Linked DNA regions of Homo sapiens. The protein of the gene in region 1 purifies or fractionates together with the protein of each later gene. This does not show direct contact. Each region holds a gene or a part of one and is shown on either strand. Other genes may lie near its edges.

Region 1 (3,814 bases):
TCAGCACAGCCCTGGCGGCCTCTGTCACCTGGACCACCCTTCTTTGTGTGACCAGTCAGCACACTGAACGGCTGCCAGAAACCCAAACAGACGCTCTGCTCCTGTACCGTCTGGAGCATCTGGGGAGTGAGCTGCCCTCCAACACCCAAAACAGGAGGCTCTGGGATGAGTGTTCCTCCTCCCTCCATGCAGAAGCTCGAAGGCTGGCACTGCAGCTCTCTGAGGAGGTGGCCCCACAGCCAAGGCAGCCCCCACAGTGGACCGGGCAGGAGACACTGGGACCCTCAGCTTGCTCACAGTGAGGCCTGCAATGCACACGCAGGAGGGACCACAGTCAGCTCGAGGCTGTCTTTAGTGGGATGCTGGGGGGCTGGCTGCCACCATGCGCTGAGTCCCACAGGATGAGGCCCCACCCTGGATGGCCACCTTCCCTAAGGCCCCTGTGCCTACCAGAAAAGCCACTGCCCCTTGCATGATCCATGGGCAACCCCAGCCCCAAGTCCTCCTCTCAACAAGTCCAAGCTCATCTGAGGAGCTCCCACTTCCCCTGAGCTCGGCCCATCTGGAGCAAAGAGGGTGGCCCCAGGGGCTGCAGCAAGTAATGCAAACCAAGCCTCCTGGAGACAGGGGCTGCAGGTGTGTCTCGCTGACCAGGAGGCTGGCTCCCTCCATCATGGTCACAGCCCGTGGCACTGCTAAGTGTAATCAGGTGCAGAGTGGTGGGCAGCCCAGCCAGCTAACCCGACCAGCAGAGCTGACCGTGCTCGGGGCCCAGGCCACAGCTGGCGGGGGCAGTGTTGGGGGCCAGGCAGCCCTGCCAGATGCCCTGCTCTCAGACCCCTGCCGGGGACAGCCCAGCCCAGCACCCGCAGCCCCTCAGCACCCTCCTCCAGAGGTGTGGATGCAGCTGAGCCCAGAACTGGCTCCCAACTCCTGTGCTCCCTAGGAGGCTGGTTGCTTTGGATTTTATATGGATAGAGGGTAAGAAAAAGATGTTGTTTCACACTGTTTTCGAGCAAAAGTGTTTATTTTTCTCCTTCAGATATACAATCTATTGGGGATTCCGTGCCACTGACCACCATGTACAAGGAAGGGATTCACAGGCAAGGGGGACAGGTGAGGGCAGCCCCCACTTCACTCAAGGAACAGGGCAAGGGGGCCCAGTACAGAGAACAGAAATCTCTTACGACAGCATCGTGCCCTGGCAGAAGATTCTGCATAATCACCTAGAAAATTCAATTCTAACTGAATTGATGGAATAATAGATTTGAACCAAAATAATTTACCCAGTTCTAATAAGTACAGAAACTATACAATTCACAGCTGGGCAGTCCCAAGCAGTCTGCTTTCCAGTGGGAGGTGGAGGAGGCTGGGGCCTTCCCCTCCCACCAAGGGCTGTGTTGTGCCCACTGGGGACGAGTCCCACTGAAATCTCCAGGAGAAGAATGACCCCGCCCTCCGCAGAGCAGGCTTAGGGCTGGACGGGAGAGCGGTCTGCATGCCAGGGGTGAGCAGAGCCACAGGTCTCCATGGAAATCATGGAGAAGGGAGGGAAGTGGGCAGGAGAGAGGGCAGCCTCTCCAGCTGGAGGAGCTGCACTTGTCTCCACAGGGTGGGCGGGCAGCCAGGGTTTCTATGCCCAACACACACCTTATCCTCACTCACAGCAGCCCACTGGCATGGGGGGCATGTCTGCTCACCTAACGTTTTCTGGCGGATTTCTCATGGCCCAGCGCAACAACTGACATTCCCTACTGAGCAAGCAGCTCCGCCAGTGTGCCCTGCCCCAGCGTCCCGCCGTCTCTCAGCCCCTGGATGAGCCCAGGGAACCGGCACTCTACTGAGGACAAAGCAGGGCTCACCTAGCAATGGAAGCTCTTCAATACTTAAGGTAGCTAATTCAATGTTTGTAAAAGGCATTTACAACAGAAAACCAAAGATTGAACTTCAGCTTCAGATTTGTAAACCATTCACATCTCTGCAACTTAAAACAGTAAATAAAGATTATCAATGCACAAGCCAATTGCAAATGAAACCTTTTCCGATAATTTTTTTTAACATATCTTTTCATCAGGGAACGGAAAAGCTGGCATTCAAGGCACTGTACTTCTGCAGGGTGACGACAAGGTTCTAACCATCAACTCAAGTATAGGAAGTGGGTGTGGAGACGGCGCGTGGACCACAGGAACCTAGGAGCGAACAGGGTCTGAAGCCGCAAAGGAAGCAGTCTTGCTGCCCACCCGCTGTCCCCCTCGCGGCTGAGTGCTGTGCCCACAGCAGGCGGTGGGGGGGACTCGGAGGCCAAACCACACCTGGTTTCTCCGGGCGGTTCCGAGGGCGCCATCTGGCAAGGGACAGGGCAGAAGGCTACGTGATCCGCAGCCGGGGGCCAGGCATGCTGACCACAGGTGGCTGCAAGAAGACTGGCAGCACGGGCACCTGGGGGGTGTTCCAGCTGCCCTGTGCCCCCAGCTGGCCCACCTGGCCTGCCCAGGGCCCCCAGGACACTGGAGCTGGGAGCAGGCCTCTGTACTGACCCAGAGGCAGCGCACAGGGTGGGGTTGGGAGGTTGGAGAGGGCAGTACCTGGTGTGGGCACGGACAGGGTCGGGGCGGCTCCGGGAATGACCGTGGTGGACAGAGGGCCGGGCGCTGGGGGCAGACGTGGCATCCCCACTCCTGCTCGAGGTGCGGTCATCTACAAAACACAGAGACGAGAAGAGGAAGGTACACGTGGCTGCAATCAGCTGGCCTCCCTTAGTGGCCCCCAGGGTGCCACAGTTTCTCCATCCTCAGGAGGCAGCAGTCCTGGAACCTGCTGTGACAGGCACCCTCTCAGGGCTGACACCAGAATGATGGTGTGGGGCCAGGAACCATCACCCTCCCTTGTTTGCTTCCCCAAGCTGCAGCCTGATAGCCTCTAGGCCACACACCTGGGTGTCCACCAGCCAAAATGGGACTTGGAGGAGGACTAGTGGGGCCTGGACCCTGAGGGCGCATGAGTGACCCCACATGCCTCTACTCAGCCACCACAAAGCCCTCCTGCTTGGCTGGTCAGTGCCCTCACAGGAGCATGAACCACCCAGGAGCTGGCAGGAGCAGAGCCCCAGGACCTGGGCAAAGCAAGTGTGCAGGGAGGTGATGGCAAGGCAGCCCTTCCACTGTCCCAGCCCGGGGAGAAGCTGTATGCGGGGTGTGCCCCAGGAAGGCAAGGCTGCTGGCCACGGGGAGTCACTCCTCTCCACTCCAGGGAGGGCCCCACTGGGCACTCTTCACAGGTGCATGGAGGGCACTCGGTGACTTCCACAACCCTTCCTGGAAATCAAGCTCGGCAGTCAGGGGCTGGAGGGGCCTCCTTATCTGGAAGGTCCTCTATGGAACCGACAGCTGAGCCCCTGCCCACGACAAAATGCCCAATACCTCCCCAAGGTGCCTCCATGCTTCCAGTCGACACCACGGGGATCTCCAGGCGGGGAGGAAAAGGAGTCAACCGCACAGACTGGACAGAGAGAAGGAGAACTGGCCTCATGCAGATGACAAGACTGTGTATGCAGAAAACCCACAAGAATGGACAAACCAATTTCTAGAACTAATAGCAAATTTAGCACAATTGCAGGATATGGGGTACGAAAGTCAACCATAGTTTTATATTCTAGCAACAGGAAGCTGGAAAAGGAGATTTAAAGAAAAATAACATTTATAATAGCATTCCAAAACATCAGCTACCTAGGGATAAATTTAATGAAAGAGGTATAACATCTTTACACTGCAGAGAAACAAAAAAGATGCCAGTAAACGGACACTACATTCACAGG
Region 2 (3,814 bases), on another chromosome or scaffold:
GCTGTTCAGTCTCTTTCCTAGAGTATGCATTACATGGCTGGTCATTTCATCTTGCTGAGTCTGTCTCCGCATTTTTTTTTCACATTATTTTTTTCTTTTCTTTTTCCTCCTGCTTCCAGTGGGGTTAGAATTTTTTTCTTTTTAGAGATAGGGGGGTTTCACTCTGTTGCCCAGGCTGGTCTTGGTGTTAAAAGATCCTCCTGGACCAGCCTGCCAACATGATGAAACCCCATCTCTACTAAAAATACCAAAATTAGCCAGGCCTGGTGGTACACGCCTATAATCTCAGCTGCTTGGGAGAATCGCTTGAACCTGGGAAGCGGAGGTTGCAGTGAGCTGAGATAGCCCCGCTGCACTCCAGCCTGGGTGACAGAGCAAGACTGTCTCCAACCACAACAACAACACAACAACAACAAACCCTCAAAACCCAAAAACAAACAAAAACAATTACCCTGGCCAGGCGAGATGGTTTATATCTAAATAGCACTTTGGGAGGCCAAGGCAGGAGGACTGCTTTAGCCCAGGAGTTTGAGACCAGCCTGGGCAAAATAGCGAAACTTTGTCTCTACGAAAAAAATAACTTTTTTTTTTTTTTAAAGAAAAAGATCCTTTTGCCTCTTAAAGTGTTGGGATCACAGGTATAAGTCACTGTGCCCAGCCTGTCTCCTCATTTGTAAGATTCAGGTAATAATATTTCCTCCCAAGCTGTGAAAATGCTACCATGTTTTACAATGTTCAAGTACTTTGCCTGGCACATGTTTGGTGCCCAATAGATAGTGACTATTTTACTTTGACCCTTATTATTATGATTATGATGACAGAAATTTAGTTCACACATTTCTAAGGTGAATTACTAGTTATTCTTACAAGGGAAAATACTAATCTCATAGTTTACAATCTAATCCATTGCTAAGCAAATACATATTCACTATTATTATTGTTATTGAGACAGGATCTTCCTCTGTCACCCAGGATGGAATGCAGTGGCCTAATCATGGCTCACTGCAGTCTTGAACTGCTGGGCTCAAGCAATCCTCTCACCTCAGCCTCTGGAGTAGCTGAGACCACAGGCTCGCACCATCACACTACTAATTTTTTTTTTTTTTTGTAGAGATGAGGTCTCACTAAGTTGCGCAGGCTGGTATCAAACTCCTGGGCTCAAGTGATCCTCCCGCCTCCCAAAGTGTTGGGATTACAGGCATGAGCCACTGAATCCGGCCCATATATACTACTGCACAACTTTGATTATAAAAGAAATTGCTTCTGGCTAAGAAATTAGCTCAAGTTTGTTTTTAAAGTTCTAAAACTCACCACTTGTCTTGCTTGCTTGTAAAATCCCTATAAGATACAGAAAGAAGTATAAAGCTATTCTAATATTAACAGGCATGGTATTTATACAGCATTTCAAAAATCAAGGCACTTTTTAAAGTGTTTGATGTGTATAGTTTTTAATCCTCAGAACAGGCAGGGTGAGGTGGCTCACACCTGTAATCCCAGCACTTTAAACTTTGGGAGGCTAAGGCAGGCAGGTCACTTGAGGCCAGGATTTTGGGACCAGCCTAGCCAACATAGCAAAACCCCATCTCTACAAAAGAAAATAAATAAGTAAATGAAGAATAAAAAATTAATTAATTAGTCCTCAGAAAAGTTTTATAAGAAAGGTACTATTTTCAATCCCATTATACAGATGGAAAAACAAACGCATAGAGATGTGAAGCAAATTTCCCCAGGGCACAGTGTTGTTATGGAGTAAAGGCGGGATCCAGGCACCTTGAATCCAGAGTTTATAAACATGCAATTTTCTTTTCTTTCTTTTTTTTTTTTTTTGAGACAGAGTCTCGCTCTGTTGCCCCTGGCTGGAGTACAGTGGCGCGATCTCAGCTCACTGCAAGCTCTGCCTCCTGGGTTCACGCCATTCTCCTGCCTCAGCCTCCCGAGTAGCTGGGACTACAGGCACCTGCCACCATGCCTGGCTAATTTTTTGTATTTTTAGTAGAGACCGGGTTTCATCGTGTTAGCCAGGATGGTCTCGATCTCCTGACCTCATGATCCGCCCACCTTGGCCTCCCATAGTGCTGGTATTACAGGCTTGAGCCACTGCGCCTGGCCATGAGCATGCAATTTTCTAAGAAGCACTGAAGTGTTGTTAAGACTTATGGTCACTGGTGCTTGAAATTTATTTTGATTTACTATTTCACTTTCATGCTCTTCAAAACTCCTGAGGATTCTTTTATATTCAACCAATTAGTGAAATTAGCCTATAGCAAAAGGACAAAGAAGTAAAATCACAGTACTGAATTTTAGTTAGTGATGCTACAATTATTATTATTATTATTTTTGTTGTTGTTGTTGTTAAAGGGTCTTGTTTTGTTCCCCAGATTGGAGTGCATTGGCACGATGACAGCTCACTGCAGCCTTAACCTCCTAGGCTCAAGCGATCCTCCCACCTCAGCCCTCCCAAGTAGCTGGGACTACAGGCGTGCACCACCATGACTGGCTAATTATTTTTAAATTGTTTTGTAGAGACAGGGTCTTGCTATATTGCCCAGACTGGTCTTAAACTCCTGGCCTTAGGCGATCCTCCCACTTTGGCTTCCCAAAGTGTTGGGATTACAAGTGTGAGCCACCATGCCCAGCCTGCAATTAACTTTTTAAAAAACACTGAGGATAAACTAAAATTGCAATAGCAATAATGTTTAAGCAATTTATTATATTACTTGATAGAATATTTTGCTATCACTAAAATTAAGTATTATGAAGACTGTGAAAATATGAAAAATATTTAGAACATAATTATATGAGAAAAGCCAAATACAAAACTGTTTAATTGCTATAATCACAAATGTAAAAACATATGTACTAACTATAGGCCGGGTGCAGTGGCTCACGCCTGTAATCCCAGCACTTTGGGAGGTCGAGGCAGGCAGATCACCTGAGCCCAGGAGTTCAAGACCAGCCTGGTCAACATGACAAAACCCCATCTCTACAAAAAACACAAAAATTAGCTGGGTGTAGTGTTGGGCACCTGTAATCCCAGCTACTCAGGAGGCTGAGGCAGGAGAATCGCTTGACCCCTGGAGGTGGAGGTTGTGGTGAACCAAGATCATGCCATTGCACTCCAGCCTGGGCAACAAGAGTGAAAACTCTGTCTCAAAAAACAAACAAACAAACAAACAAAAAAAATATATATATACACATATATATTTTATATATACATATATATTTTATATACACATATATATTTTATATATATACATATATATTTATACATATACATATATACATATACATATATATTTTATATATATACATATATATATATACATATATATATACACAGAAACACTATAGACATAAAGTAGGAGAGTTAAGAGGCAAAATAGAAACTGCTGTGTTTATTGTTAGTATCATGGGTGTTTTATCTGTTTTTACAACTCTTCGTACTTTAACTTTTAAAAGAATAATATTTTATCAGAATCATAAATGTATATATATATATACATTTCTTTAAAAAATAGAGTCTCACCATGTTGGTCAAGCCAAGCTGGTTAGAACTCCTGGGCTCAAGTGTTCCCCTCCCAGCTCAGCCTCCCAAAATGCTGGGATTACAGGCGTGAGCTACCACATCCAGCCACAAGTGTCTTTTAATTGCTTTATTTATTTATTTCTTTATTCATTTATTTATATTTATTAAGATGGAGTCTCTGATTGTCACCCAGGCTGGAGTGCAGTGGCGCGATCTCAGCTCACTGCAGCCTCCTCCTCCCTGGTTCAAGTGATTCTCCTCCCTCAGCCTCCTGAGTGGCTGGAATTA

What was found.
Region 2: the proteins of WNK2 (region 1) and SGK1 purify together in Homo sapiens (affinity purification with western blotting, with the first as the bait; one study listed by BioGRID). This does not show direct contact.

What each region holds. Positions count from the first base shown.
Region 1 is NC_000009.12:93,316,403-93,320,216, reverse strand, and holds part of WNK2 (serine/threonine-protein kinase WNK2), read right to left. Parts: intron 2,698-3,814; coding exon 2,586-2,697; intron 2,345-2,585; coding exon of another isoform or gene 2,143-2,344; exon of another isoform or gene 1,009-2,142; intron 1-1,008. UniProt on the Homo sapiens protein: Serine/threonine-protein kinase component of the WNK2-SPAK/OSR1 kinase cascade, which plays an important role in the regulation of electrolyte homeostasis, cell signaling, survival, and proliferation.
Region 2 is NC_000006.12:134,262,310-134,266,123, forward strand, and holds part of SGK1 (serine/threonine-protein kinase Sgk1), read right to left. Parts: intron 1-3,814. UniProt on the Homo sapiens protein: Serine/threonine-protein kinase which is involved in the regulation of a wide variety of ion channels, membrane transporters, cellular enzymes, transcription factors, neuronal excitability, cell growth, proliferation, survival, migration and apoptosis.